Homo sapiens: one gene and its partners. The protein of the gene in region 1 purifies or fractionates together with the protein of each later gene. This does not show direct contact. Each region holds a gene or a part of one and is shown in the gene's direction. Other genes may lie near its edges.

What was found.
Region 2: the proteins of SEPTIN2 (region 1) and IRGQ fractionate together in Homo sapiens (co-fractionation; one large-scale study listed by BioGRID). This does not show direct contact.
Region 3: the proteins of SEPTIN2 (region 1) and U2AF1 fractionate together in Homo sapiens (co-fractionation; one large-scale study listed by BioGRID). This does not show direct contact.
Region 4: the proteins of SEPTIN2 (region 1) and PAK2 purify together in Homo sapiens (co-immunoprecipitation; one large-scale study listed by IntAct). This does not show direct contact.
Region 5: the proteins of SEPTIN2 (region 1) and STK39 fractionate together in Homo sapiens (co-fractionation; one large-scale study listed by BioGRID). This does not show direct contact.
Region 6: the proteins of SEPTIN2 (region 1) and TPR fractionate together in Homo sapiens (co-fractionation; one large-scale study listed by BioGRID). This does not show direct contact.
Region 7: the proteins of SEPTIN2 (region 1) and SMARCA5 fractionate together in Homo sapiens (co-fractionation; one large-scale study listed by BioGRID). This does not show direct contact.

What each region holds. Positions count from the first base shown.
Region 1 is NC_000002.12:241,322,068-241,326,735, forward strand, and holds part of SEPTIN2 (septin-2), read left to right. Parts: intron 1-2,148; coding exon of another isoform or gene 2,149-2,165; coding exon 2,166-2,174; intron 2,175-3,925; coding exon 3,926-4,046; intron 4,047-4,668.
Region 2 is NC_000019.10:43,585,481-43,590,148, reverse strand, and holds part of IRGQ (immunity-related GTPase family Q protein), read left to right. Parts: 3' UTR 1-4,668. UniProt on the Homo sapiens protein: Autophagy receptor that specifically promotes clearance of misfolded MHC class I molecules by targeting them to the lysosome for degradation.
Region 3 is NC_000021.9:43,092,138-43,095,863, reverse strand, and holds the end of U2AF1 (splicing factor U2AF 35 kDa subunit), read left to right. Parts: intron 1-120; coding exon 121-170; intron 171-327; coding exon 328-426; intron 427-1,075; coding exon 1,076-1,209; intron 1,210-1,300; coding exon 1,301-1,393; intron 1,394-2,614; coding exon 2,615-2,762; 3' UTR 2,763-2,908; downstream 2,909-3,726. UniProt on the Homo sapiens protein: Plays a critical role in both constitutive and enhancer-dependent splicing by mediating protein-protein interactions and protein-RNA interactions required for accurate 3'-splice site selection. Recruits U2 snRNP to the branch point.
Region 4 is NC_000003.12:196,829,382-196,833,695, forward strand, and holds the end of PAK2 (serine/threonine-protein kinase PAK 2), read left to right. Parts: 3' UTR 1-3,266; downstream 3,267-4,314. UniProt on the Homo sapiens protein: Serine/threonine protein kinase that plays a role in a variety of different signaling pathways including cytoskeleton regulation, cell motility, cell cycle progression, apoptosis or proliferation.
Region 5 is NC_000002.12:167,952,710-167,957,951, reverse strand, and holds the end of STK39 (STE20/SPS1-related proline-alanine-rich protein kinase), read left to right. Parts: exon of another isoform or gene 1-2,375; intron 2,376-2,381; coding exon 2,382-2,456; 3' UTR 2,457-3,930; downstream 3,931-5,242. UniProt on the Homo sapiens protein: Effector serine/threonine-protein kinase component of the WNK-SPAK/OSR1 kinase cascade, which is involved in various processes, such as ion transport, response to hypertonic stress and blood pressure.
Region 6 is NC_000001.11:186,333,399-186,338,066, reverse strand, and holds part of TPR (nucleoprotein TPR), read left to right. Parts: coding exon 1-34; intron 35-910; coding exon 911-1,054; intron 1,055-1,372; coding exon 1,373-1,571; intron 1,572-2,523; coding exon 2,524-2,729; intron 2,730-2,937; coding exon 2,938-2,999; intron 3,000-3,533; coding exon 3,534-3,742; intron 3,743-4,668.
Region 7 is NC_000004.12:143,550,926-143,555,235, forward strand, and holds part of SMARCA5 (SWI/SNF-related matrix-associated actin-dependent regulator of chromatin subfamily A member 5), read left to right. Parts: intron 1-2,193; coding exon 2,194-2,259; 3' UTR 2,260-4,310. UniProt on the Homo sapiens protein: ATPase that possesses intrinsic ATP-dependent nucleosome-remodeling activity.

The sequences.
Region 1 (4,668 bases):
TTCTTCCAAAGTAGCTGGGAACATTTCCAGTCAAAAGGGAAACAGAGGACACAGTATTCAGGAAGTTAAGATTTGGGGGAGGGGAATCGAGAGGCAAAGTGAGAGAAGCTTTTTAATAAGTTTCTAAGCTCCAGAGGGAACCAAATTTGACAGCAGTCATCTTTCTTGGGGTTGTTACTGAAGGTTAGCCAACAGACTCCATGCTTTCCAAAGCTTCAGGGTTTCTAAAATTTGTTTAAAAATTCCACATATCTCTGGCTGGGCACAGTGGCTCACACCTGTAATCCCAGCACCTTGGGAGGCTGAGGCGGGCGGGTCATGAGGTCAGGAGATCGAGACCATCCTGGCTAACACAGTGAAACCCCATCTCTACTAAAAATTAAAAAAAAATTAGCCGGGCATGGTGGCGGGCGCCTGTAGTCCCAGCTACTCGGGAGGCTGAGGCAGGAGAAGGGCGTGAACCCAGGAGGTGGAGGTTGCAGTGAGCTGAGATCACCCACTGTACTTCAGCCCGGGAGACAATGCGAGACTCCGTCTCAAAAAAAAAAAAAGAAAAGAGAAAAAAAAATTCCACATATCTTTAAAAATATTGTCACATTTTTCAGACACTCAGATGCCTTCAGTACTATTTCCTTTCCTCATAAATGTAGTTCACATTGCTCTCTGTACCCCAGTGTCAAAATCTAGTTCTCAGGTAGCTCTAGGAAACTCCAGTGGGTGGCAAACATGTTCAAGTTACAGTGCTCTATGTAATGAAGTCCCTTACTCCTTGAAAGGTTTCAAAGAGAGAGGGGAAATGACATAATTCCAGAGGTCAGGGAAGTATGTATCCGTGTGTATCCCATTTGTGTCCCTAGTGTCTAACATATAGTCAGTACTGAAAAAAAATTTGAATATTATTGAAAATATGGAATATGTGCGTACATATATATATACAGTTGCTTTTATCAACTTAAAAATTTTTTTAATTTTTTAATTTTTTGTAGAGATAGGGTTTTGCTATGTTGCCCAGATTGGTGTTGAATTTTTGGCTTCAAGCAGTCCTGCCTCTGCTTCCCAAACTGCTGGGATTACAGGCGTCAGCCACTGCACCCAGCCACCATCTAATTTTTTTTTTTTTTTTAATGGAGTCTCACTCTGTTGCCCAGGTTGGAGTGCAGTGGCATGATCTCGGCTCACTGCAACCTCCGCCTCCCAGGTTCAAGCGATTCTCCTGTCTCAGCCTTCTGAGTAGCTGGGATCACAGGCACGCACCACCACGCCTGGCTGAATCAGTATTTTTAGTAGAGACGGGGTTTCACCATGTTGGCCAGGCTGGTCTTGAACTCCTGACCTCAAGCGCCACCATGCCTGGCTGAATCAGTATTTTTAGTAGAGATGGGGTTTCACCATGTTGGCCAGGCTGGTCTTGAACTCCTGACCTCAAGTGGTCTGCCTACCTCGGCCTCCCAAAGTGCTGGAATTACAGGCGTGAGCATCACGTCTGGCCTAATTTTTTTAATCGAATTTATTTTTGTAATGATAGATGCTTGTCTTATTCCTAGGGAAATATTTGAAGTAATTGAGATGCTGTCACCTAAAATAATCAAAAGGCTCCTGATTCAGTTAAAAGAATTCATTTAAGTACAGAGTGTAAGCGAGCTACACCAAAGAATGGTGATTAGCGCTCCCAGGGTGGGGAAAAATGAGGATTGTTTATATAGGCAAAATGGAGGTGCCAAACAGAATTATAACATTTTCGGAACTAAGGCTCATTTAAAGATACAAATTTGATTGGCTACTATTGATTACACTTGAAGGGATTTGTTTAACTTCCTTTTGTAAAGAAGTAACAGTCATAAGGATCTCTCATCTCCCAGTCATTTAGTCTAGTTTTGAATAAAGAATAGGGGGTCTGGTTAATATATACATCTAAACACAAAAGTCAGAAAGAATAAAAGTAGTGATGTTACACGAGCCAGCTGTCAGTGCTTAACTTTTCCCTTTGGCCTAATGCATTTGGAAGGTCCTGAAATTGTATTTTCTTTTTACATTGCCTATGTATGTGTAAGTCTTCTTCAGGTCAGTTCACGCTGTTAAATATACGTGCGTATACATACATACTATGTATGTGCGTTTATGTGTGTCTGTGTGTTTTTTTTTTAACAGACGAAGCTTCACAAAAGATGTCTAAGGTAAGATCATACTTCATGTATCTACAGCATAAGGAGAAATTGCTTTATGTTTTCAGACTGTTGACAGTCGGGACTTATATGATTCATTATTTTTAATACAACTGATACATTTGATTCATTAACACAAAGAGTTCTAATTTAGTTGTCTTTTTTTTTTTTTTTTTGAGACGGGAGTCTTGTTCTGTCACCAGGCTGGAGTGCAGTGGCATGATCTCAGCTCACTGCAACTTCTGCCTCCCACGTTCAAGCGATTCCCCTGGCTCAGCCTCCGGAGTAGCTGGGACTGCAGACACGTGCCACCACGCTGGCTAATTTTTTGGATTTTAGTAAATTCGGGGTTTCACCGTGTTGGCCAGGATGGCCTTGATCTGTTGACCTCGTGATCCACCCGCTTTGGCCCCCCGAAGTGTTGGGATTACAGGTGTGAGCCACCGTGCCTGGCCTAATTGTCATCTTAAAAGCTTGGAGCTTTCTCTTTTTTCAGGCTTCTACTTTCTTTTCTCTACACACATCAGTAACAGTCCTTTTGGCCCCCTTAGTTCATTCCCAGCAGACCAGATAATTTAGAATTCTGATAATTTATTATGATGAAATTGATGGGGCTCTTAGACTTGATAAATTGGTTTAAATCAGCCTTTGCAAGTTAGTTCAGAGATAAATTAGTGCTAAAGAACATATTCTGAGAAAAGCAGAACTTGTGGTTAACATTGCAAGATTATTATTTCTGTTTTTTTTTTATCTTTGAATCCTGTGGGTGTTCATTACTGTCCAATGCAAAATCATCATACCAGTTTTTGCATTTTATACCAGTGTTAGCATGGAACACAGATAAGCAAAAAAAAAAGTCATTATTTCACCACTCAGGAATAACCACTGTTAATATGTTACATATATTCTTTTTCACCTGTGTGTGCATTTGACTATACATTTACAAAATGTAATCCTAAAGGAAATACTATTTTGTATCTTGCCTTTTTCAATTAATAAATTGATTTTTAAAATTTCTTCTCATTTTCAGTATGCCACTGTCTAGATTCTGGTTACTTCTGCTATTCTTGCCTTCTCATATCTCTGTCCTCTCTCTCATCAGATACCCTTCTGTCAAGGAATATTGATGCTTCAGTGTAGTCATCTATGATCTTCTCATTCTGTCTTTTCTTTCTTGGTCTTTGACACTAGATACTCAACATCCCACCCCTAATTTGCCTGCCTCACCCTTGATGAAACTCTGTTCTATAGAGCTAGAAGCACAGCAAGAGAGATGCTTTTTTCCTCGATACTTTTCAGAAATGCATTGCACCTAATACCTGGGAGAAGCTATTCTTTAGCCAAGTTTGTTGAATGAAACCATTCATTCAAAGTACTGTCAGCTGTAGCAGTACTTTGTAAGCTTGACTGATTTTCCTGGAACTCCATAGTCTCTCAAGTCGAAATTTGAAATTGCATTAAGATGTATTAAGCATGTATCTTCTATGTATTGTTAAATTCCTAAACAGAATACTGATTAACAAAATGTTAATTTTCAGTCGCATACAACTAAGGAGTTATACTAGATAAGTTTTTCTTTTTTTAATGCTCCTAGTTGAATACTACTGGTTTTCTGATAGAAGTATGACCTTCTGGAAGTGTTTATACTTTTTAAAAAATTTGTGAAAACTGATAACCTATGTTTGTTTCATGTCTAACTGATTATATCTTAAAAGCAACTACTAAGGTGTTTATTAGTTTGTTTGTTTTTTAATCTTATTTAGCAACAGCCAACTCAGTTTATAAATCCAGAAACACCTGGCTATGTTGGATTTGCAAACCTCCCCAATCAAGTTCACCGAAAATCAGTGAAAAAAGGTTTTGAGTTCACACTGATGGTGGTCGGTAAGAAATTAATCTATAGTCTCCAACTTACTAAATAAATATCTCCCCTTTCCAATCTCTGGAGTATGATAACGTGACCTATAAAGAAAGAGGAAAATTTGGCAGAGTCAAATAACTTGAGAATTTGAACAAATATATGTGTATTCATTAGAAAATTTTTCTCAGGAGCAAAATTATTTTTCTGTCACTTTCTTATTTATATGTAGTGAAAGTTTACTCATTGTGTCAGCTAGGCTCCAAAATGGCCCCCAGTGATTCTTATCTCCTGGTATTCACAACTTTCTTGTCCCTTCCTGCATTGAATAGGGTTTTACCTGTGTAGCCAGTAGGACATTGTGGAGATGAAAGTGTTGTCATTTTCTAAGACTAGGTCATAAAAGGCATTATGGCCCCCCACCTTGCCTCTTCTCAAATTACTCACTCTGGAGGAAGCCAGCCCTTCCTGCATTGAATAGGGTTTTACCTGTGTAGCCAGTAGGACATTGTGGAGATGAAAGTGTTGTCATTTTCTAAGACTAGGTCATAAAAGGCATTATGGCCCCCCACCTTGCCTCTTCTCAAATTACTCACTCTGGAGGAAGCCAGCTGTCATGTCAAGAGAACACTCAAGCAGCCTTACAGG
Region 2 (4,668 bases), on another chromosome or scaffold:
TAGCTGAGATGACAGGCATGTGCCACCACACCTGGCTAATTTTTGTAGTTTAGTAGAGAAGGGATTTCACCCTGTTGGTCAGGCTGGTCTCGAACTCCTGACCTCAGGTGATCCACCCGACTCAGACTCCCAAAGTGCTGGGATTACAGGTGTGAGCCATCATGGCCGCCTGACTCTTTCTGATGCCTGAGTGGCTACCTTGAGTCCTGCCTGGGGACCCATGCACCTGCTGTTCTCTTTCCTTCAAGGCTCTACTCACAACTTCCTGTTCTACTCTCAAACCTTCCTGTGACGGGCTCAGTCAGATCTCAGCTCACGTATCCCCTCAGAGAGGACTTCCCCTCCCTGACCACCCTATCTGAAGTAGCTCACATTCCCCCACTATTCATTTCGGCCAGTTGAGTTTCCTTGTAGCAATTATTACTGTCAAAAATGATCTTATTTATTTACCTGTTTATTGGCTTTTGACCCGTTGCCTGTCCTGTTCTCTGTTGTTTCCCCAGCATCTAGAACAATAGGTGCCTGACACAATAGGTGCTTCGTAAATATTTATTATTATTATTATTATTTTAGAGACAGGGTCTTGCTCTGTTGCCCCGGCTGGAATACAGTGGGATGATCATGGCTCACTGCCATCTCCAACTCCTGGGCTCAAACGATCCTCCCACCTCCGCCTACAGAGTAGCTGGGACTATAGGTACACAGCACCAAATTTTCTGTAGAGACGGGGGTCTTGCTTTGTAGCCCACACTAGTGTTGAACTCCTGGCCTCAAGTGATCCTCCTGCCTTGATGGGATTACAGGTGTGAGCCACCACACCCAGCCTAAATGTTTATTTCATTGGTCAGTGTCAGAACTAGGATTGGAATTTAGATTGTTAATCTCTTGCCACAAGATAGGAAAATGGAGCAAGATGAGGAGAAAAAAGCATTTAATGGGAGAGAACACCCTTGTCTGAGGTCAGGGACCTGGGAAGCAAGCACGACTTTGCCACTGTCACTGTGTGTTACTTGGACAGTGCCTTATTTTCCCATCTGTGAAATAAAAGAGCTGGATAAGAACCTTAGTTTTGAGATCCTGTCTCCCTTAAAAGCTGAAGACAAAGGTAACTGATCCAAGGGCAGACAAGGGATGGTACCATCATCTCCAGCTTGGACTCCCACTGCTGACAAAATTTGTCCCTTCAAAGTTGAGATAGCTACCATGGGGAAGAGCACTTAGTTCTATACTGAATGGCTCCAGGCATTTTCATGAAAGCTCTTTCAGCTTTGGGGAAGAATATTCATCCATATCTTTACCCCATCATATTAGTGTCTAAGCCCTGCAATCAGGCATGTCAGCCACGTGATGGAATGGGAGGGCTGCAGGGCAGCACTGTCCAGTAGAAACGAAATGCAAGCCACATATGTCATTTTAAGTTTTCTTTTTTTGAGATGGAGTTTCACTCCATCACCCAGGCTGGAGTGCAGTGGCACGATCTCGCCTCACTGCAACCTCCGCCTCCCAGGTTCATGTGATTCTCCTGCCTCAGCCTCCTGAGTAGCTGGGATTACAGGCATATGCCACCATGCCTGGCTAATTTTTGTATTTTTAGTAGAGATGGGGTTTCACCATGTTGATCAGGCTGGTCTGGAACTACTGACCTCAGGCCACCCGCCTTGGCCTCCCAAAGTGCTGGGATTACAGGCATGAGCCACCGCGCCCAGCTAATTTTTGTATTTTTATTTTATTTATTTATTTATTTTTTGGGAGACGGAGTCTTGCTCTGTCACCCAGGCTGGAGTGCAGTTGTGCGATCTTGGCTCACTGCAACCTCAGCCTCCCAAGTAGCTGGGATTACAGGCATGCACCATCATGCCCAGCTAATTTTTGTATTTTTAGTAGAGATGGGGTTTCACTGTGTTGGCCAGGCTGGTCTTGAACTCCTGACCTCAGGTGATCCACCGGCCTCAGCCTCCCAAAGTGCTGGGATTATAGGCGTGAGCCACTGCACCCGTCCTAATTTTTGTATTTTTAGTAGAGATGGGGTTTCACCATGTTGGCTAAGCTGGTCTGGAACTCATGGCCTCAAGTTATCTGCCCACCTCAGCCTCCCAAAGTGCTGAGTAAGCCAAGTTTTCTAATAGCCACATTAGACAAGTAAAAGGAAACAGGTTAAATTCATTTTAACATGTTTTACTTAACCCAATGTATCCAAAATAGCATTTCAACATGTCATCGGTTTTTTAGTTTTTTTTTTTTTTGAGATAGTGCTTCGCTTTGTTGCCCAGGCTGGAGTGCAGTGGCACAATCTCGGCTCACTGCAACCTCCACCTTCCAGGTTCAAGTGATTCTCCTGCCTCAGCCTCCCGAGTAGCTGGGATTACAGGCACCCGCCACCATGCCCACTAATTTTTGTATTTTTGGTTAGAGATGGGGTTTCGCCATGTTGGCCAGGCTAGTCTCAAACTCCTGACCTCAGGTGATCCACCCACCTCGGCCTCCCAAAGTGCTAGGATTACAGGCGTGAGGCACCGTGCCTGGCGTCATCGGTATTATTTAAATGAATTATGTTACGTTCTTTTGTGCTGTCTTCAAAATCTGTTATATATTTTACACTTACACCAAATCTCAATTACCATGGTACATTTTTATCTGAAATGCTTGACCTTTATTTTGATTTCATAAAATTCATAGTTGGAGAAGTAGATTCACATATCCAAGTTGTTCCAATTATATAATAGTTTTCCAAAAACTGAGATGGGTGTCCATTTTTTTTTTAAGTAAAGATGCAGGTCTGGTTATGTTGACCAAGTTGCTGGGTTGTTTTGTTTTGTTTTGAGACAGAGTCTCACTTTGTCACCCAGGCTGGAGTGCAGTGGCATGACCTCAGCTCACTGCAACCTCTGCCTCCCAGGTTCAACTGATTCTCTTGCATCATCCTCCTGAGTAGCTGGGACTACAGGTGTATGCCACCATGCCTGGCTAATTTTGGTATTTTTCTCAGAGACGGGGTTTCACCATGTTGGGCATGCTGGTCTTGAACTGCTGACCTCAGGTGATCCGCCCACCTCGGCCTCCCAAAGTGCTGGTATTACAGGCATGGGCCACCACACCTGGCCTCAGCTGTTCAATTAAAAGTAAATACAACTTAAAATTCTATGTTTCATTGGCAGTAGTGCAACATTAATACTGAGTAGCCACATGTGATTAGTGGCTATGGTATTGGACAGGGAAGGTACAGAATACTTCCATCAACATAGAAAATTCTATCAGTCTAGCTCTAGGGGCAGATAGTCCTTCCACTGACTTGGGCAAGTCACTCTACAAATGGCATCTACCTCACATGGTTATGGTGAGAATTCAGCGTATGTATGTACATGCAGGCACACAATATGCACACAGACACATAACATAGTACACCCTTTCCTGAAAAGCCTGACACATGGAGCTCAAACATGAGTGCCACCCACCCCTGGGCAGCACCAAGATGGCTCTAGTCTGGGTGCCTTTGTCTCACCCCCATGCCTTTGCTCGGAGTGTGCTCCTCATTTTTCTGCCACTTTGACCCTGTCTCTGATTTGGTCCTGTCTGACATCACTGCTATATGCTTTGCTCCTCTCAATTTCCTCTGCCCTCATGCCAGCAGGAGTCATGCCAGAGATCATATCTGAGAAAGCAAGACAATTTTGTGTGTGTGTCTGTGCCCATAGAGGAGTGCTGGTTGTGTTGATATAGTTGTAGATTGGTTGTGTTTACACAGTTGTATATATTGACACCCTTGAGTGTTATGACTTCTTTTGGGGGTGGTCGCCTTTTAAATCATAACTTTTAATGGGATTCCATTTTAGTCTTTGTGAAGACATAAGGTTGTTGGCAGGCATCTGTCCCTGGGAGCATCCAAGCAGAAAAGACTAAGACTCCCTTGTAGACAGATCACTGGCCGCCACTGAAGTGTGTCTGCATGGCACCACAGGGCTGGAAGACCCTTGAAGGCAGGAATTCAAGGAAATGTATGATGAATTTTGGCATTGCCATCAAAAGCAGAACAGGCATGGAAAACTTGGGTGAGTGGGCGAGACAACCTCCTCACCACAGCAGAGTTCCATCCATGCCTGGATAATGATGGAGGGATTTGTGTCCACTGCAGTGGGGAACCATGAAGGACACATCAAGGGTGTGGTTGGCCTGTGGTGCTCTTTGGAGGAATGAATAAAAATGAATAGAAATCCTATTGCGTGTCTGTTCTTTTGGAGTTTGAGGGAAAAGAAAGATCCTTGAGATTTTGACTGGGCTGGAAACCTAGACTCCAGCGTCTGGGGATAGGAGGGATGGTGGGGAATCCGCTGGGAAAAACTGGGCTGTGATCAAGAGAATTTATCAGTATCTGAGTTTTTCCACCCTGGAAGGAGTGCGGGCAGACTTACTGTTTAAACATTGGGAGCTTATGATGGTAAAGCGCCTTAGTTCTGGAGCCAGGTATACCCATTAATGACCCCAACTGGGCCAGCCTTTCTGTAGCCATGCCCTTGGATTGTTGCTCTCCTTCTAGGTTTGACTATGTGGTTTGCTTCAGCCACTAGAACAATAGCAAACATGATACAAGCAGAGGCTTGGAAAGTGCTTATGCGGCCGGGTGTGGTGGCTCACACCTATAATCCCAGCACTTTGGGAGGCCAGGGCGGGCAG
Region 3 (3,726 bases), on another chromosome or scaffold:
GCAGCTCTGCCAGGCTTTTCTCTAGATAATCTCGTGTGTGTTACTGTAGCAGTTTGAGTTTAAACACAAGAGTTCACTCGGTTAACATGTTCTAACCAGCAAGATTTCTGTTGTTTGCAGGTGCCGTGAGCGATGTGGAGATGCAGGAACACTATGATGAGTTTTTTGAGGTGAGAGAACTGAACTCTGTGACTGATAGACCTGTTGATCTTCTGTATCTGTTTGGAAGGATTTAAAATGTTTCTCTGCTAATAAACATACATGAGTTATATCTAATGACACTTTGTAATGTATAACGAGTCTTAAACCACTGTGGTCTCCCTTCAGGAGGTTTTTACAGAAATGGAGGAGAAGTATGGGGAAGTAGAGGAGATGAACGTCTGTGACAACCTGGGAGACCACCTGGTGGGGAACGTGTACGTCAAGGTAGGAGCCAGGGCGAGACGGCGGCGTGGCCGCTTAGTGTGCCAGGGCCAAGGCCAACAGGCGAAAGCGAGACAGTGGTGCAGCCGCTTAGTGTGCCGGGGCCAAGGCCGACAGAGGATGGGGTGCCTGTCGCCATGCACCTTGAGATCCTGGATGCTCAGGCGCACAGCAGGGCTCAGGTGCACTGGCTCGGCGCCTACCAGCTGCGTCATATGTGGCGGTGGCCAGCCCACACGTGCGCCCAGCCAGCAGAACTGAAGGACGGACCGTACACCACAGCCATCGTTATTTCAGTGTAGAATATTTAGTACCTGTTGGTTTAGAAGCTGTGTGGACTAAGGAAAAGTTAGGTTTACTCACATGTTTGGTTTCTTTTTTCTTTTTTAGTGAATAAAACTTTATTTGCCTACACAGCCATATTTGCTCCTTTAACCAGTTGAATTTGAAAAATGAAGGCAACATTTGGCAAAATCTTGGACTATCTTGAAGTTAATCTCATTGAAAATAAAGGATTTTTCAATTATCCTGTAATACTATTCCACCTTACTATACCTGAGTGTGTATATCTCTCTCTGATATACTTGGATTGGTAATTGAGAAAGTCTTATTAAAGCGTGGATGGCAAGCACTTCTGTTTTTGTCTTTTCAGTTTCGCCGTGAGGAAGATGCGGAAAAGGCTGTGATTGACTTGAATAACCGTTGGTTTAATGGACAGCCGATCCACGCCGAGCTGTCACCCGTGACGGACTTCAGAGAAGCCTGCTGCCGTCAGTATGAGATGGGGTGAGTGAGGAGTGGCCAGTGACGTGACTGAGCACAGTTCGGGGCCGTGTGCACACGAGGTAGTAAATGTCTCCTTCCAACCCACCCACAGAGAATGCACACGAGGCGGCTTCTGCAACTTCATGCATTTGAAGCCCATTTCCAGAGAGCTGCGGCGGGAGCTGTATGGCCGCCGTCGCAAGAAGTGAGTATTCCTGTGCCCGTTGTTAAGCTCAGTGGCTTCTTTCTCCCCTCACAACCCTCCCCCTTCCAAAAAAAAAATTTTGGCATAGGTGTCGTTTCTGTTTTTTAAAAGGCAGTGCTTAGAACATAGTACATATTTTTAAATATCCAAATGTCCTCTTTGGAGAAGAATATTCACCTGCACACAGGTAACTTCATTATCCAACTTCTCAAGTAGAGATCAGATCTTAGTAATCAAGCAAGAGGGCGGTTAGCTGGGCAGCCGCGGACATGAGGCTCGTGGTGAAAGTGGGCATGCAGTTTATTCTCCCAGATATTACGAAGAAGAAGAATAGATGTTGTAACCTCCTTTAGATCAGGGATGGCTTCCCTGGGACACATTGGAAGAAGAATTGTCTTGGGTCACAAATAAAATACACTAATGATAGCTGATAACTTTTTTTTTAATTGCAAAAAAAATCTCATAATGTTTTAAGCAAGTTGATGAATTTGTGTTGGGCTGCAGGTTGGACAAGCTTTTGCTTTACATATTTCACATGTCCACTGGGGTTTCTTTTGGTTTTGCTTGTTGGTTTTAGGGCATTTCATTATGTCTTGGGATCGCTGGCATCCTCCCTTCGGGACACTGGCAGAATCAGGCCCAGCGGTCACATCTCTCTGATCCTACATTTAAATGTACGACAGGTCACAGAGCAGAGAAAATCAAGACGTCAGAATCGAACCGATTGAGTTCTGAGTCTGGAGAGGTTCTCATCCCTCTTCTGTTAAACATGGACTAGTAAATAGATGGGTGGCGATTGTTTTATTGTCAGCATTCAAGAAGCATAAGAGAAAAACAGGCCTGCTCTCCCCAGCCCAAAAACCTGATGGACACAGTAGCTATGAGCGCCTGAAGCGTGGGGTCAGTGAGGGTTGAAGATGGTATGTGTCCAGCTCATTTTGATTATGATTTCCTGTGACCATTTGAGTTGGTTCTAGAAGAAGACAGAAGATGCAAGGTATTACACCTGTTCACTTCTAAGTTGCACATTTTTTTCTCCTGAAACTTTTCACACCTGAAATCAGGGTGTGTCTCAGTCACGGCGTGCAGTCTCTTCAGCAGTGTTTTTCCTTATCAGTGCCGTTGGCTTGAGGAGCTGCGCGTGTTGAGAGAGTGGGTGTGGTTCTGTGCTGCGTGCCGTGGTTTGGATGGCACGGTTTTCTTTATTTTCCTTGGTTGCAGGCATAGATCAAGATCCCGATCCCGGGAGCGTCGTTCTCGGTCTAGAGACCGTGGTCGTGGCGGTGGCGGTGGCGGTGGTGGAGGTGGCGGCGGACGGGAGCGTGACAGGAGGCGGTCGAGAGATCGTGAAAGATCTGGGCGATTCTGAGCCATGCCATTTTTACCTTATGTCTGCTAGAAAGTGTTGTAGTTGATTGACCAAACCAGTTCATAAGGGGAATTTTTTTTAAAAAACAACAAAAAAAAAAACATACAAAGATGGGTTTCTGAATAAAATTTGTAGTGATAACAGTATTCTTGGTGTAACTTATTTCTTGTGGAAGTTCTTTAAATTTCTTTTTCTTTATAAATCTGCTAGTCATCTTGGAGGTAAAGATTAATATCCATCCACCACTTTGAGTATAAATGAAATAATATTTTTTATCTTAGGGCATGAAATAAAACACATACCAGGTGAGATCTACATGCTAAATAATCCGGAATTTCTCGAGGCTGTCATGGAAAGCCTTTTGGGGTTTCTTTTCTAACTGGTTAGTGAAGAAGTGCTTAGCTATAATCAGTAGACACGCTGTAGACTGCACTGATGTTGGGAAGAAGGCTGATCTGTGGTGAGACACAGTGGGTGGGCCCGACCCATGTTACCTTCTCGTTCCTGCGAGTTTGTGTCAAGAACCCCATGTGTTCGTGGGAGGGAGCGTGGATGCTCACACGGCACACTGAGGGCCAGTAGTCCGTGTCCGTGTTTCCTTATGCCAATGGCTGTGGGAGACACAGAAGCCTGCGGTGCAGATCCGCCTTTAGACACTCTGGTATTACTTTCCCCAAGCTACTCGGGTGGCGCGTGCTGGTGGTGTGACTATGGTGACAGCCAGCTGACCGGTCTGGGGCACCTGCCACAAGTCAGTGCTGGGGGCTGAGCATTTCATTCCTAAGACCAAAACGTTCCAAGTGAGGCCATCCCAAACCATGCCCACGTGTCCACATACCTCATCCTCAAAAACCTCCTGGCTCTAGGTGGGAGTCACCCAGGCTCTCCTGCCCTGCTCTGCTCCTTGTGGGGGCTCAGTGACAGATCCTGCTGGTGGAGTAGGGGAGTGGCTGGGCCCTAACTA
Region 4 (4,314 bases), on another chromosome or scaffold:
TAATCCTCTCTCACCTCACAGATACCCCCTCCCATGGCAAATAATATAATAACCAGTGAATTTTCAGGAATTTAAAAATTAGCTTTTTTCCACTTAAAGGAGAAAAATATTTGGGACTAGCAGCAGAGGCAGTAAGAGATGTGAACCTTGGTGAGCTCTGATACAGTGAGAAGAGATTATACTCATGAAAGAGAATGTTAGTGTTACAGAGAAGCAGCCGATAGCAAATCGACTGTAGAGACTTGGCGGCGGTGGCATTGCCCCAGGTCGTCAGCAGTGTGGTATTATCTATGAGAACTTGAGCGACAGAGTATTTCTTGATGAATTTATAGATCATTTGAGATGTTGAGTTACTTTAGTTTAGTTTTGTTTTGTTTTTTCAAATAAGTAGAGACTATTGTAAAAAACGAGAAAGGAAAATGAAATGTGCGTGTTGATAGCAATAATTTGTTTCTTTTAAAGATTCTAAAAGGTCTGAGACCTGTAGCATTAATTATTTGAGTGCCCTCCCTTCTCCCCTCCCCTCCCTTTTCTCTTCTCTTTTTTCCTCTCCTCTTCTTCTCCTTTATTCATTGTTTTGCTTTTGGAGTGGGTGTTGTTCAAGTATCTGTGGTTTGGTTCTGGCATTTTGTTCCCACCATCCCCTTCCCCCATTAACTTCCCCCCTGCTTGCCATCCTGCAGTAGTATAAATCATGAATAAAAAATAATTTTGCTGTTGTAGTATACATTGGAGAAACTGGCAGGTTTTATTTCCATTATTTTATTTCCACTATATCTATGATAAGATGCAATTATAAGGAGAGAAGTGACTGTTTTTTATTGATAAGGCAAGATTTTCAGAAAAATGAGTAAAATAATTAATGAAACATATTTAGAGCACTTAATGGTCTCTGTTTTCAATATAATTCTTGATTTCATTTTTCTCTGGAATATATTGGCCTTCTACAGCTATTACTGAATTATAGAAACTGGTTTATTTCTGGCAGAAAGCTGCAGTGCCACCTGAGTTCCAAATTTTACCATTCTTTGTAAACAGTTGGATGGATTATGATAAAGAAGATGCTACCAATGAAATAGAAAACCAACGAGATGAGAAGACTGTGATCCTCATGTACTCAGAGGCACTTCCCTCCTAAGTCAAAGACCATCCTCACTGACTATGTGCCAACGCCTCGTTTCAGGCTTGTGACTCAACAAAGGGCTTTTCCATTGATAGAAGCAGTTTGGGATTTGTAGTTGCGACTTCTTCGATAGTTACCTGCACGTCCATTGCTGGCAACTGACTTGTCATTAAAACCTGGCTCTTTGGTTAAGGGAGCTACGCTGTGGTTTATTCTTAAGTTACGTGGATAAACTAACCTCTAACAGAAATATACTTTGGTTAATTTTGAAATGTGTCATTTTTAAACAATCTTAAAAGTAATACAGAATTGTGATTTATTAATTTTAAAACATTCAGAACTTGTTGAAAGAAAAATTATATCTGAATCAAGATTCATGTTTTTTATTTTTATTTTTTTTGATACAGAGTCTCACTCTGTCACTCAGGCTGGAGTGCAGTGACATGATCTCAGCTCACTGCAACCTCCGCTTCCTGGGTTCAAGCAATTCTCATGCCTCAGCCTCCTGAGTAGCTGAGACCACAGGCACCCGCCACCACACCCAGCTATTTTTTTGTATTTTTAGTAGAGACAGAGTCTCACCACATTGCCCAGGCTGGTCTCCAACTCCTGAGCTCAGGCAGTCTGCCCACCTTGGCCTCCCAAAGTGCTGCAGTTACAGGCGTGAGCCACTGCACCTGGCCTCATGTTTTTTAAATAATTGCCTTTTATATTTACCCTTTTTGTCATCACTTTAGAATGAAAATTCCCATTTAAATCTGAAAGTTACCTTAATAGTCCTCTTGTGTTATTAGGACAGTATTATTATAGTACTTATTTATTTTATTTTAGATTTAAAGTTATCTTCTCTTTTTCTTTTTTCTTCTGCTGCTTTTAGGGACAATTAAAACTGGGAAACTATGAAACATGGAACATTTTATCCTACCTGAAAGTAAACGAGTAATTGTGAAGCATAAGACACTGAGGCTAATACAACTCTGTCTTCATGTGTTGACTGCCTGGCACATAGTATTCATTCTCTTCCCTTTAACATAGAAGTGTCCAGCTGCGTACAGTCTAGTAACCAGCAACTGTAAACGAACCTGTGCCTCTAACAAGCGATTCTAAACCACCTATGAGTATTTCTTTTAGGGCTCACTTAAATACATGTTTGTATATACTGTATTCTAGCCAGAATAATTTTAGATCTGATCAGGTAGTAGCTAAAATTAGAAAAAAACAAAATAGATGCTTAAAGAATTTGCATCCATTTTTGAGTCTAAATCTTTTAAAATATACTGAGATCCACATCTAGTGAAATGTCAGTGTCAAAATATTATAGATTATAGCTAAAATCCAGATTAATACTCATTTGGGGTTTTTTATAGTGGAACTTCATAGTAATACAAAAAGCAGATTGTCTTCCTGTCTCCGCTGCTCCCACAGTAGGTATTGAAACTGGTAAAATCAGTTTTTTGATAGTGTGTGTATATAAGAAAAAATAGATACACACATTCTTTTTTCTCAGTCAACACATTGATTGAACACTCTGGCAAAGATGCTGTGGTGGATGAGGTTGGAGTTCGAAAGAAGAAGCAAGCGCTGGCCTGGCCTTGAAAGAACCGAAGTCTTTCCCATTCACTTCTCTAGAAAGCTGCCAAGACAGAGGCAGAAAGAAATGGATGATAGTTCTGTCAAGCACACTTCTGTTCTCTTAGAACTTAGAAGTGTTTCTAAGAGAACAGAAGTAATAAGAGAAACAGTTACGTGTGGAATTCAACATCTTTGGTTGGAACGCATTGGCTTTTTTTTTCTTGTTTTGATAGAAATGGAATTAAGCAAAAGTAGTTTTTGTCTTTTCTGTTGTCTTCAAATTTTATGCCTTTTATTTTTAATTTAATCCCGTTCAATTATTTAATTGTTATACATTGACATTAACTGCTGTATTTTGACTTTGTTCAATAATTTTGTTCTTTCAGGGCTAGAAATAAACTTTTTAAAAAAAGTGTGCATTTTTCCCTTTCCTAAACTTTTATTCTTTCTTTTGATCAGCGTAAAAGAATATTTTAATGTCTTTTGATAGCATAAAAGAATATTTAAATGTCTTAATAGGTTTTCAAAGAACATTTAGTATTTTTAGTGATAAATGTTTTAAACCTTTTAATGGTGTTGTGCCATCATTTTGAATTTATTACAAAGCTCCAAAGTAGGAAGGTTTCTAGAAATGTGTGGGCAGTAAACATGAAGTTTTCCTTTTTTTTTTTTTTTTTTTTTTTTTTGAGACAAGTCTCACTCTTTCTTCCAGGCTGGAGTGCAGTGGCGCCATCTCAGCTCACTGCAACCTCTGCCTCCCAGGTTCAAGTGATTCTCCTGCTTCGGCCTCCTGAGTAGTTAGGGGAAGTTTTCCCTTTCTAAATCAAGTTCAGAATAATTTTCTTTATCAATGTTTCTCTATCAGACCCAGGGAAACAGTTCTGATTTGAACACACACCTTGCTGGAGTAATAAAAACCTGATCAGAATTTCTGTGTTAAGTGAACCAAGAAACCTTTTAGAGTGCAATACGTCGTAAGGCATCACTTCATTATGTGAATTAATTTGGAATCTTAGGTACCCTAACATAGGGAACAGCCACAATAATGGTTTACTATCAAAAAGCATAAAATAAGGCCAGGCGTGGTGGCTCACACCTGTAATCCTAGCACTGGGAGGCTGAGACTGGCGGATTGCCTGAGCTCAGGCAGGAGACCAGCCTGGGCAACATGATGAAATCCCATCTCTACTAAAATACAAAAAAAAATCAGCCAGGTGTACTGGCACATGTCTGTAGTCCCAGCTACTTGGGAGGCTGAGGCACAAGAATTGTTTGAACCCGGGAGGTGAAGGTTGCAGTGAGACAAGATCATGCCATTGCACTCCAGCCTGGGTGACAGAGCAAGACTCCTGTCTCAAAAAGAAAAAAAAAAAAAAAAAAAAAAAAAAAAAAAAAAATATATATATATATATATATATTCTGGGTGAGAAGGGGAGGCAATGACTTTGAAATGTATTTGTTACACTATATGGCTGTTTCGTCTTGTTCTAACATTTATATTTCTTTGAACTAATAGCAAATGCTCAAAGCATTGCCTAAGAAAACTTTTAAAAGCCTGTGGTTAATTTCAGAAGCTCTATCTCTAGGGCTTGGCGGGAGGATGGCTCGAGCCTGGGAGG
Region 5 (5,242 bases), about 73 Mb from region 1:
GACAGACATTTCAGTGTAGCTATGGGAGGCACTGAGGACCCAGGGTGGGTAGGAACTTTGTGAAGACTCCTTCTGTGATGTTCTCACCGTAACCACTGGTTTATCACCTACTCTAGTAAGTTCTCATTTCCATTACTCTTCACAAGAAAGGATTTAATATTCTCATTTCTAGTCAGTTCAACCACTATTGGATATTGTAGTTTTATTCTAGTCATTTTAACCTCCTGATATTCACATTGCCAAATTTCTGATGAAGATTTGAAGTACATTGGTGTACTTCACATTTGGCAATGTGACCTTTTTGTCACCACCAGCAGCCATAGTTTGTCTTTGGATGTTTGTCAGTTGCCTGTTAATTACACAGGTTGTCTGCCATTATTCAGTGGGTTGAGTAAATGATGTTAACAAGAGCTACACATGAGAGAGAAGGGATGATTTAGGAAGGTAGATAAAGAAACAGTGATAACACAAGGAGAAAATGGATAGGGAAGGTGAATATTACAGTGTCAGTGTGACACCACCAGAAATACCTCAGCCAAAATGCCCTCTATGCCTGTACTACTTTGTTGAAAGTGATAAGGAGAAGAGCATTTCAGACCTCATCGCCCCTGTCAACACAAACAATGACAATTTTACTTCTCTGAACATCTTTATCTGTCAGATGAAACCAGAGATATCACTGGATAGGTACAAAGTAAATTCCTTTCTTTAAATACTGATTAATATTTTTATCCTTTAGGCTAGTGACTTTTTTACATAAGCATAACTACTTACATAGGATGTTATTTTAAAGATAATCATTTGAAAATATTCAAGGTACAAACATTATAGTTAGCTGATTATTTAATAGAAAATGCTAGAGTTGATGCTGGTTTTCTGTACTGTTTTTTTGAACAGTTCAAAAAACAGTACACTATGAACAGTACAGTTCAAAAAACAGTATAGTACATATTCTAAATGTATACAAGCAGTGCTATGCAGCTTAATTGTGGTGATTGGAAAGGGCACGTTTCCATGGGAAACTAATTGTTGTGACAATAATTTAGCAGGAATTAGGCTCTGAAAAGGTTTGTATGATCCTTTGGTAATTAATTGCCCATTCCCAGTCATTCATCATACTTTTTTCTCCCTTCCTTGTTGTTCTTATGTAATGTCCAATTCTGATTTATGTACTATAGGATGAGAGGCAGCTTAGAATGGTGGATCTGAGGGGGCGGGGGGGGAGAGAGAGAGAGAGAGAGAGAGAGAGAGAGAGTGTGTGTGTGTGTGTGTGTGTGTGTGTGTCTAAAAGCAAGCAAGGGGGAGAGGTCACAAGAAAAACGAAATAACTTATTAATTAGGACCAGTGAGAGGTTTGAAGGGAAATGGCTTCCTTTTTTTTTTTTTTCTGAGGTGGAGTCTCGCTCTGTCGCCAGGCTGGAGTGCAGTGGCACGATCTCGGCTCACTGCAACCTCTGCCTCCCCGGTTCAAGTGATTCCCCTGCCTCAGCCCTCAGCCTCCCAAGTAGCTGGCACTACAGGTGTGTGCCACCAAACCTGGCTAATTTTTTGTATTTTAGTAGAGACGGGGTTTCACCATGTTGGCCAGGATGGTCTCGATCTCCTGACCTCATGATCCACCTGCCTCGGCCCCCCAAAGTGCTGGGATTACAGGCGTGAGCCGCCATGCCTGGCCAAGGCAATGGCTTTTTTCCAGTTCTGTCTGATTCTGAAGTAAGAAAAATAAAGTATTTGACACACCATAATTTTTGCCAATTTTAGGCAATTAATATGTCTGAAAATATAAACAAAATTCTTTTATAGAAAAGAATTGTTATAATACCTTTCCCTGTAAAACTTATTCACTGGTATTTATATAGCAGTTCTCTCTAATGAGCCCATCGCAGTACTTGGTGATGACTTTTTCCTGGCAAGTTTCATAGAAGAAATGAGTTTGGTAAAAACTAAATTACTCCTGGGTGACCTGTTAGATCTCTTCTGCTTATTTTCATGTTGTTCTCAGAATGATTACTAAGGTGATTTAGTTAGAAAGTATATTTAAAATAATTTTATTTAGTTTTTGAAAAATTTGTTTGTGGTTTCTTAGCAGGGGTGTTTCACTGACTGTTCCAAAGCTTCCAGCCTGGGCATGGTATTTTAATGGATAACAAATCCCTTCCCACCTCTGTTCTGTACTTCATAGCATGATGGCCACAGTGCTGACAGCACTTAGCTTCCAGTAGTCATTCGAGAGAGTGGCTGGCGTCTCTCTTCTGGAAGAAATGGGACACATGGTCCCATACCAACTGTGCCTTTGCTTAGATCTGCCATCATAGGAACAAGACTTTAACAACCAGCAGCAGCAGCAAACCAGCATTGAGGCTTTCTTTTTCCCTTTTCAGGCTTCTGGCTGTGATGGGTCGGAGATTCCTGATGAAGTGAAGCTGATTGGGTTTGCTCAGTTGAGTGTCAGCTGATGTATGTCCCTTGATGTCACCCTGATCTGTCATGCCCCACCGCCACCCCTACTCCCTTCAACCCTCCCTCTTTCTGCCCATTTCCTCCCACCCCCTCACTCCCATTTCCTAGCAAAATCAGAAGATTGTGAAGAGGCCGGCTTCAACAAAATGGGATAAAAAAATAATTTTTTAAAACTTACAACACTCCGAGTTCTGCTTTATTCTCTAGCAATCCACAGTACAAGAACAAGCAAATGCCACAGCTGCACGACTGTTGCTCATTTTTCCAAAAGCTATTTAATATTCTTAGCAATCAATTTGGATATCCCTTAAGTGAAAAGAATCTGAAATACACTCAGGTGGTCTTATTTATTGGCAACAAAAGGAATTTTCTATCCAGAAGCCTATTTCTCCTTTCATTGTTGTTATTTCTGTTATAATACTTTAATTGTACATCTGACAATACTGCCTCTTTTATGTTGTATTTAGAAATTAATATACTTATAAAATTAAGATTTATTAGCCAAACTTGAATTCTAGTTTTAAAACTGACTGTGAATTTTATTTTTCATATATTTATGCATTACACACCTTAGCTATAAGAAAAAAAGGGTTTTGATTATATGCTTCTTGCAGTTAATCTCGTTATTTAAACAAAAAGTTTTGGGTCTGTCTTTGGAGTATTTGTAACTTCTAAATTTTGAAATGACTGAATTAGGAATTTGGATGCTTATTCTTTTAGTCTGTTTGCCTAAAAACCAATTTACAATCTGACTGTCTCTTGGGAGAGGGAGGTGCCTTGCAAACTTTCACATTAAGAATGTGCCTGAGGCTGCTTTACTCTGGAATAGTCTCAGATCTAAAATTTCCTCTATATAAGGTGGCATATGTTAAGTTTTGCTTCATTGGACCGTTTAGAATGCTATGTAAAATGTTGCCATTCTGTTAGATTGCTAACTATATACCCATCTCTGATTTGGCTCTCCTTAAGTGATAGGATTTGTTATTCTAAAGGTGATAAACTTGAAAATATCAGAATCTGAGTTTTACTTGAAATTTTGCAGAATACCCAGGTGGAGTGAAAATTGGAAGGGTTTTGTGCAATGACTAAAAGGTAAAACGCTGTTAAGGTTCAAGAATCAATACTTTCAACCCAAGTAGCCCTCTGCTTGACTGTATATTATGGAACTAGTAAACCTTAGGATTTTGAAAATTGGAGTCTAATCTTTCAAGGAGGTGGGCTCCCAGGATGGTACCATTGCTCTTTCCTAGCTAACCCTAGATATGGCAGCTCTTTAATGTACTTCAAAAAGCAAATATATATTACTAAGGAAAAAAAGTTATTTATAATTGCCTTGTCATAATTGTTAAGGTGTTCTAGAGCCATTTGCATACAATTTAATGTAATTTCATTCCATTCTATTGTTTACACAACGATTACTCGAAGATGACTGCAAAGGTAAAAGGAAAATAAAAGTGTATTGCACAATGAGATTGTTTTGCATTGTTTCTTTCCTCCTTTAGATATCATCTGCATTACTGCAATGGCATTTAGCACTTTCATAAAATGCCTAGTAAGAGTTAACTAGTGAAAGTGCCCTAGAGGCAGAGTGAGGAGGCATCATGCATCCAGTACAGAGAACTGGGTTTGACAAGTAACTTGAATTAGCATGAGGAGAGAATGAAAGGCAAACATTTCTACTCCATATAGACAGATGGTCTTCGAATTAAAACCCCTATAGGGCTATAGGGGACAAGAGAGAATGATTCCTTCCAACCACTTCATTCATTTTAATGCTGTTAGTCCCTGAGGCTCAGAGTGGTTGAATGACTTGTCCAAGGCCCTTTACAGGACTACTTGCAGAGCTAAACTCCCAGGATCCTCACTTCCTGACATTCAGAGCATGTTCTTTACACTCTTCTGTACAACTTGTGGGTGAAAAGACAAGACCCTTATCTTCTACTAAGAGGATAAAATGTACATGAATAACTGGAGGACTTTGCAACATGGAGACTAATCAAAAATCTTTCAGAGGGGTGGACTCCCAGGATGGTGCCATTGCTTTTTCCTAGCTAACCCTAGATATGGTGGCTCTTTAATATACTTTAAAAAGCAAATATATATTACTAAGAAAAAAAGTTATTTATAACTGCCTTGTCATAATTGTTATATCATTTAATATCTGTATTTAGACATGGTTATAAATATCATTTAATGTCTGTATTAAATTTCCACCCATATTTTCATATCCATCCTAATGGCATTTGAGGTAGTTTGCATACATTCATACAATAGGATAGAGATGTAAAAATGCATAAAGAAATTAGGATGAAGGGACAATAAGAACTGCCTTACAAGGTGAATGCAAGGATAAAGTTAGTACATAAAAATCACCACGAGGGCCTATATAATTGCTAGAATACACAGATGTGGACTAGAGCTTCCTACCCACCATACTACCTTAATTCCCAACATGCAGAGCAATCTACAAATTCAGTATAATCCTTATCAAAATTTTTAAATTGTATTACCCACAGAAATATGAAAAACAATCCTAACATTTGTATGGAACCACAAAAGACCCTGAATAGCCAAAGCAATCTTGACGAAAAAGAACAAAACTGAAAGCACCACACTTCCTGATTTTAAATTACATTATAAAGTTATAGTAATCAAAATAGCATGGTACTGGTATAAAAACAGACCAGTAGAACAGACTAGAGTCCAGAAATAAACCCATACATGTATGGCAATTTTTGACATGAGTGCCAAAAATATACAATGGGAAAAGGACAGTCTCTTC
Region 6 (4,668 bases), on another chromosome or scaffold:
TCAATATGAAGAACTTAAAGCACAACAGGATAAGGTATTTTGAAGAAACTTATCTTACAAAAAAAAACTAGGATGAATGTTATGAAATCTTATTTCTTTGTAATTTTGAATATTACTAGCTTTTAGATACCGAAATCGTGTAAGCATATATGATATCTTTATTTAAGATTAGTTCTTTAATATGTCTGAAAATGCATTATAAACTCACAAATTTTGGTAAATACTAGATAGTTCAGTCTTCACCTTTCAAATACTCTCCATTTTCAAAGCTATGTTCTTATAACTCATTGCTAATTAGAATTGTGTATATTAAAAAATGATGACTAATCTGGTTTTGTATAGTTTTAAATAAATTGTTTATGTTAACCACCTATCAAAAAAATTCAGAAATCTTTGTTATATTTATATTTTGAATCTAAATATTGTTTTTAATTCCTGAAGGTAAGGAATTTGTATGTTGAGAATTATGTATTTATTTCATGTTGGATTAGAAAATAAATATAAAGAAAAAAAATTCACAATTAATACCCCTTTGTTTTAGCCACTATTAGTACATTAGTATCCCTTTTCATACATGTAAGCGACGTTTTTCCAAAGAAATAATATTATATGCTTATATTCTTTTGTATACTTTTTTCACTTGATTCATTATCATGAAAATACAGTTAAGTGTTGAAAATTCAACTATAATGCATCATTTTGATTAGCTGTTTAGTATTCAGTTATGTGGAAAACCATAACTAGTTCCCCATTTTTGGAGATTACAGTTGTTTCATAGAAAATTCTGTTTTGAATACCTTCAGGGATAAAATTTCTTTGCAAAGCTGTGATTATTTTCTTAGACAAACTTGCAGAAATGGAATTACTGAATATAAATATGTGAGTGTATTATTACTGTTTGTTGTCTTAGGTTATGGAGACATCGGCTCAGTCCTCTGGAGACCATCAGGAGCAGCATGTTTCAGTCCAGGAAATGCAGGAACTCAAAGAAACGCTCAACCAAGCTGAAACAAAATCAAAATCACTTGAAAGTCAAGTAGAGAATCTGCAGAAGGTATGAGTGTGAGAACAGTCTGTTCCTAATTCTTTCCTGTTATACACCTAAAGAAATATGTGTTAACTACTGACACTTTGTCTTACCATGTGGGAATGGATACATTTTATTCTTTTTACTTTGAATGGCTCATGTATGTAAGTAGTACCCAATCATCTTCAAGTGTGCATTTAGTTGGTCTGACCACCATTTTTATACTTATACTTCCATTTAATCTTTTAAAAAGCAAATTAATAAGTTATACTTTAAGTTGCTACCACATACAGTTTATATTGAAATGATTGAATTCCATGGTGAATACTTTGTTTTCCTTTAAAGACATTATCTGAAAAAGAGACAGAAGCAAGAAATCTCCAGGAACAGACTGTGCAACTTCAGTCTGAACTTTCACGACTTCGTCAGGATCTTCAAGATAGAACCACACAGGAGGAGCAGCTCCGACAACAGATAACTGAAAAGGAAGAAAAAACCAGAAAGGCTATTGTAGCAGCAAAGTCAAAAATTGCACACTTAGCTGGTAAATATCTGTTTAAAGTTTGAACTTGGTAGTGAAAGTTGATTATGTGTTGCAGGCCTAAAACTAAATGGAATAGAAATAAAAGGTATCTACTTATGAAGGGTGTTTGTGTGTGTATGTGTGCTTTAAATATTAGGAATAATTAGTTGGACACAAAGAGCAATCCTAATTTTCAAGTGATGAGGATATCCTTGATATGATGAAATTTTTCTCAATTGTTGGCTGGCAGTAGATAATGGAATACTGCTATCCTTCTGCTTTCATGGATAACAATTCTATCTTGTGACAGAGATCCTTTGAGCCCAGACCGTGCTGTCTAGAAACCTTATGTAGACTGCATAAAGATCTTTACCAGCCCAGGGATTTTTTTGTGCCTCGTTTGGTGGAGGACCCCTCTAGCTTTTCAGGGAGAGTATCATGTCAAATTTATGAAGAACCTAGTTCTTCAAGGCTCAGGGCTTTATTCAGCCTTGCCTATCAGTCTGCTGAGTAGTTAAATAAAATGTCAAATCAGTTGGATTTTGTTACAGGCATTTTTTTAAAATGATCTCTAAGACAGTGTCCTAACAACTTACTTGATTTTAAAAGTTCTTGAATTATTTTTAAACAGTGCTGTAGATTATATGAAATAAAAATTTTGCAATTCATAGTAATGAATTGCATGATACATTGAAATATAAACGGGCTTCTGTTAACTAGGATCTTTAGCTTTTTGAGATTTTAGTTAGGAAAAAGTAAATTTTTATGTTGGAGTAAGTATATTTTATATTCTAGTAATAAGTTAAAGCATGAATGTACTTAGAACTTTGCTCATTGAGATGTATGATGTATCATAACTAATGTAGATGTTATAGTAGTAGAATCTGATGTGACCATGTGCCAATTAAGTGCATAAATGCTGTTTTAAATGTTTGATTATAATATTAATATAATCGCCTGGTTACTTCTTTAGGTGTAAAAGATCAGCTAACTAAAGAAAATGAGGAGCTTAAACAAAGGAATGGAGCCTTAGATCAGCAGAAAGATGAATTGGATGTTCGCATTACTGCGCTAAAGTCCCAATATGAAGGTCGAATTAGTCGCTTGGAAAGAGAACTCAGGGAGCATCAAGAGAGACACCTTGAGCAGAGAGATGAGCCTCAAGAACCTTCTAATAAGGTGATTAGCTAATTCTGCTTAAGTAACAAATTGTTTTTCTTTGTACATTTTACTTGAAAGTGCTTGGTGATATAGGAGCCTTTGTCAGTGAATTTTGGCTAAAATTCAATATATGCGGAGAGAATTAACAATAATGACAATTTTTTTGTGGCATTTTTAGTGGACTCTTGTGGGCTAGGAACAACAATCAAGAGCTTTCTCTTTATAGGTCCCTGAACAGCAGAGACAGATCACATTGAAAACAACTCCAGCTTCTGGTGAAAGAGGAATGTGAGTTTTAGTTATTTCATAGTCTGTTATTTTTCTTTTAAAGCTCAGGGAATATCTAGTGATCTTTCTGTTTAGGAAAAAGAAATCTGTGTATTCTATTGTAAAAACATACACTAAAGAGTTGTTTTCTCTGCAGAACTGTATCATGTATTTGCCAGCTTGTTTTCACCATACTTTCAGTCCTATCAGATGAAGCTTTGTGACAGAGAAAACGTCTCTCATCTTTTAGTTTACAGTTGGTTTCTAAGTTAGGCTGCTACTGATTTTCCCCGTGATGTTACATGATGACAGATAGAAAATGCTGGGCTGAGACTTGGGTTCAGCAATTCAACAGCTAGATACATTTTACATTGTCAGGATGCACCACTCTGGAGCATTCCCTGTGTAGTTTTTAATGCTTAAATTCAAAACAGCTTTAATAAGGCTCTGAAATATTTAGTGAACAAAAAAATGGAGACCTATACTCACTGTGTTTTTAAAAGTATTTGCATAATAATTTGTTATTAATTATTCTTCCATTTTCTCCTCTATAAGTGCCAGCACATCAGACCCACCAACAGCCAATATCAAGCCAACTCCTGTTGTGTCTACTCCAAGTAAAGTGACAGCTGCAGCTATGGCTGGAAATAAGTCAACACCCAGGGCTAGTATCCGCCCAATGGTTACACCTGCAACTGTTACAAATCCCACTACTACCCCAACAGCTACAGTGATGCCCACTACACAAGTGGAATCACAGGAAGGTTAGTAAAATAATACAGATCTGATGAGACTGCTTATTTAGATTTATTATGAGAAGATGACAGTAATTTCAAAGACAAATGAAGCATCCACTACAGCTGAAGTCACGTCATTGTAAAAATGGGTGTTTAATATTTGAAGGACATACTTCTAGGACCAAAATTTTCACTTGTAATGACAAAGAATATATGAAATCCACTTTGGAAAATCATACTGAATTACTGGCTCAATCCAACATTGCTTTCTCACTGAAACTGACCATTTCATTGCTTTCTTCAATTTTTTCCCATGACACTCTTGTTATTCATTACAGCAATTACAACTTTGTATTTTATTCTGTGGTATACATGCTTTTTACTCCACTACATTGAGCTCCTCAAGGGCAAAAATCTCAGCTTCTTATTGTTTAATCCCTTTACCTAACTCCACAGTAGGTGTTCAGTAAAACTTTGCTACCTGCATATTTCCTTAGATTCTTATCTTGACAAATGTTAGAATTCAGTAAATTATTCAAGTATTTCTGTGCTGTGAAAGTAGAGAATGTTTTATTTCAGCTACATCCAATAAACTAAATATATTACTAATCAAATTTACTATCTGTTATATCAATTAAAAACTAAATGATGCTTAATGAAAAATTCTAATTTTACTTTGAGCTTAATTTCATTAATTTTATTCAACAGTAATTTAAATGAATAGATGCAAAATCAGTTACAGATATTTATTTAATTCAGGCAACATTTTATTGCATGCTACCATATCAATTACATAGGGAATATAAAAATGCATAATACATTACCTTTACCTACAATGTATTTGTCTACCAAGTGCCAAATCTGTGTGAAAGGTGACATGTACCACAGAATAGGAAGGATAATTTCAGCTTTGATAAAAGTAGAAGGCTTATATTCAGCATTATAATTATTTT
Region 7 (4,310 bases), on another chromosome or scaffold:
TTTGGGTGTAAACCTAGGAGTAGGGTAACTCTTATCTGTAGTTTTTTGAGGAACCTTCAAACTGCTTCCACAGTGATTGTACTAATTTGCGTTCCCACCAAAAGTGTATGAGGGTTTCCTTTTCTCCACATTCTTGTCAGGATTTGTTATTGCCTGACTTTTGGATAAAAGCCATTTTATCTGGGATGAGATGTTATCTCATTGTAGTTTTGATTGCATTTCTCTGATGATCAGTGATACTGAACAGCTTTTAATATGCTTGTTTGCCATTTGTATGTCTTCCTTTGAGAATCATCTGTTCAGATCTTTTGCCTATTTTTAAATCGGACTGTTAGGATTTTTTTCAGTAGAGTTGTTTGAGCTCTTACATATTCTGGTTATTTATTAATCCTTTGACAAATGGGTAGTTTGCAAATATTTTCTTCCATTCTGTGGGATGTCTCTTCACTTTGCTGTTTCCTCTGCTGTGCAGAAGCTTTTTAACTTAATGTGATCCCATTTGTCCATTTTTGCTTTGGTTGCCTGTGGGGTATTATTCAAGAAATCTTTGCCCAGTCCAGTGTTCTGGAGAGTTTTCCCAATGTTTTCTTGTAGTTTCACAGTTTGAGGACTTAAAGTCTTTAATACATTTTGATTTGATTTTTTTATATAGTTAGGGATACAGGTCAAGTTTCATTCTTCTGTGTATGGATATCCAATTTTCCCATTACCATTTATTGAAGAGACTGTCCTTTCTCCAGTGTATGTTCTTGGTAGCTTTGTCAAAAATGAGTTCCATGTAGATGTATGGACTTTACGGACTTATCTCTGGGTTCTCTGTTCTTTTCCACTGTTGCACTGATCTATGTATCTGTTTCTATACCAGCACCATGCTGTTTTGGTTACTATAGCTCGGTACTATAAGTTAAGTCAGGTAATGTGATTCTTCCAGTTTTATTCTTTTTGCTTAGGGTGGCTTTGGCTATTTCTGGGTGTTCTGTGGGTCCATATAAATTTTAGTATTTTTTTTTCTATTTCAGTGAAGAATGTCATGGGTATTTTGATAAGGATTGCATTGAATCTGTGGATTGCTTTGGGTAGTATGGACATTTTAACAATATTGAATTTGCTAATCCATGAACATGGAATATCTATTTTTTTGTGTCTTCAGTTTCTTACATCAGTGTTTTATAGTTTATCTTAGAGATCTTTCGCTTCTTTGATTAATTCCTGGGTATTTTATTTCACGTGTAATTACTGTAAATGGGATTACTTTTTATTTTTCACATTCTTCACTGTTGGCATAGAAATGCTACTGTTTGTTGTATGTTGATTTTGTATCCTGCAGTGTCACTGAATTTGTTTATGAGTTCTAATAGTTTTTTGATGGAGTCTTTAGGTTTTTCCAAATGTAAGATTATGTCATTTACAAATAGGGCAATTTGACTTCTTTGTTTCCGATTTAGATGTCCTTTCTTTCTTTCTCTCGTCTGATTGCTGTAGCTAGGACTTCCTTGAAATACTTAAAAAGTACAAATTTAGCTTGACTGGGTTGTGTGGGAAAAATCACTTCTTGATGATATGGTAGTCCTTAATATGGGGCTTCGTGAAAATCAGGAAAGTATGTCTCGTAAATGTCAAGTGTGTACACATCTCATTGAGAATACAAGTTATAATTTTAGAATAATTTAAGAAACATTGGAAAAGCAGTGGTATTATGACTTTTACTGTTAGTCTCTAAGCTTTGATTATTTCAGTGATGTTTTAGCAATGTGAAGGCAAACACTTAAAGGGAAAAAATGTTATTTAATAATAGTTAATTTAATAAAAAATGGTTAATTTATAAAGTCATGAATAAATGAGTATCTCTGGATAATATTTGGTACTTATGTAACTGCCTTTTAAAAACTCAAGTGTTTCTTACTATTTTGGGAAGCTTGCATTTATTTGATATTGATCTACTACTGTTAATTGTGCATTAGTTTTATAACGTCATTATTAACATTAACATTTTTTATTCTGTAAGTAAAATAAGTAGGTAAGATTATTTGGAGGCTTTATAGTTTGCTTTGAAAGATTTATATAGCCTGGGGGAAAAGTCTCATACCTATTACTTTGTAGTAGTTGTTATTACTAAAGTGTTATAATGTGTCTGCAACTATATTTCATGTTTATATTAGTCTTGTGAAAAGTAATCCTTCTGTCTGTTTGTAGACACAGAAACGTAAAATGGATGGCGCACCTGATGGTCGAGGAAGAAAAAAGAAGCTGAAACTATGAATATGTTTTTGTTTCATAATCACTAACTTTAAACCAGTAGTTCTTTAATTTACGGGTCTTCATAAGATGTACTGTACAATGCTCAATTGTTATGTCATTTAAAGACATCAGGTTCATCTGTTTACTGAGCTAGAAACATAGTATGTAGTTTCACTTTTTTAAATGCAACAGCTGTGCTGAAATTTTTTTATCATTAACACTTGAAGTAATAAAATAGGCTTCATTTATTACTAAGTGTTTCATTTGATTTATTTTTCTATTGTAGTTCCATTTGTGAAGATTGTGACTTTTTGTTTATTAGCTATAATTTCTACACTTGTAAGGCTTAAAAACAAGTTAAAAAGAAAATTGCAAATAACATTTGTCCCTTTCAGTCTTCACCTAGTTGTGTAATTATTTTAATTCACTTTGCCTTTGCAGAAATTTGGGTATTTTCTTTGTAGTGCTATTGAGTCTCATCTGGAAAGATTATATAAATTGCATTCTCCTTGCTTATGTGGGTAGAATGGGAAAAGAAGGCAAGACAAAGTATACTTAAATTCTATGCATATTTCTGTTATGCTTTCTGTTTTTTTTAGTTGATTCTGAAATGAATATGCCCTATTCTTTTGAAAGAATGGCCTTTTAGTTGTATAGCCAAAGACATTTAGTATTTTCCGGTTCCTTAAGGTATTACTGTACCATTTTGTAAAAGGAATATTATTATTATTATTTTTAATTATTTGGTAAATATTTTGTCATATGACCTTCTGAAGCAGCCACAACTTAGATAATGTCAGAACTAAGGTGATTTTTTTTTTTTAATTTTGAAAGCCCAGCCAAAATGAGGTGTGAATTTGTCATACTGTTACATTGAAATTGGTAACAAAATATATCCCCTCCCATTTGGACTTTTAGGGTAAATGAAAATTTTATTGTATTTTAAAGTAGTTTCTAAGTGTTAGCAAGACTGACTATAATTCCAGTTTCTGTTTTCTATGGACAGACCTGATAAACTGGAGACCCTAAAGCAGGAATACCCAAATTATAGTGTCAGGATTTTAGCTGTACCAGAGGCCTTTATGTGCTACACATAATTTGTATAAAATTTTATATGTGCAGATTGGGTACATAAACAGTTCTCCATTTTTCTAAGGGAATGCAATAAATGTAGCATCGTGAATAAATATAACTTTTATAATCCGTAAAGTGGTCTTTTCTTTCCATTTCTTTAATTGTTTTCTCAATTTTTATTCACTTTTTCCTTTAGGACACATTTCCCTTAATTGGATATCTTTCCCTTAAATTTCTATTAGTAGTTGTTTTCATCTGCCCACATGTAATTGAAGATTTAAAAAAAAAATTTTGATACCTGCAGTATTACTAATACTGCTTAATTTCTTGAAATGTGGAATTGCTGCTGTTAATGTCAAGCAAAACGCAGTATTTATGGCAAATTGTAAAGTAATTTGAATTTAGTGCTACCTCAAAATTAACTTTTTAAATACTATGTTAGATTCTTAACAGTTAAAGGTCTAATACATGCATGAGGAATGGTTACTTATGAAAGGAAAAAGAATTTGTAAGAGTTATCACCTCAGTTTGGAAGAAATTGAAAAAATGTAAGGCTGAAGAAAACTTACGGAGGTCACAAAAGTGATGTTTTCAAGAGGAGGAGAAACTGGGAGGGAGATACACAGTGGAAATGCAAAATGAATCAAGTATAGTGGTAGCCCTGAGAGCTTAGGGACTCAAATGGAAACTGTGTGAAGGGAAACTCACTTGAAAAAAAAGCATGAACCAGCTAGGCCCTGCCACCACTGTGTTTGGCCAAGTTCACAAATCTGTTTTAACCTGTCACTTCCCTGTCACTTCTCTGGCTTTCCTCTCCCGCTAAGCTTTTGTTTCCTGGCAGTAATTAAAATCTTCTGTCAGTGCCACAGCTACTACTGCTACTGGAACTGCCTTAACCACTACTGCTACTGGAACTGCCTTAGCCACCTTGGTATCGTGGTTTGGCAAAGTATTGGCCTCTACCACCATAGGGCCCAGAGCTTCTGCCTCCAAAGTTT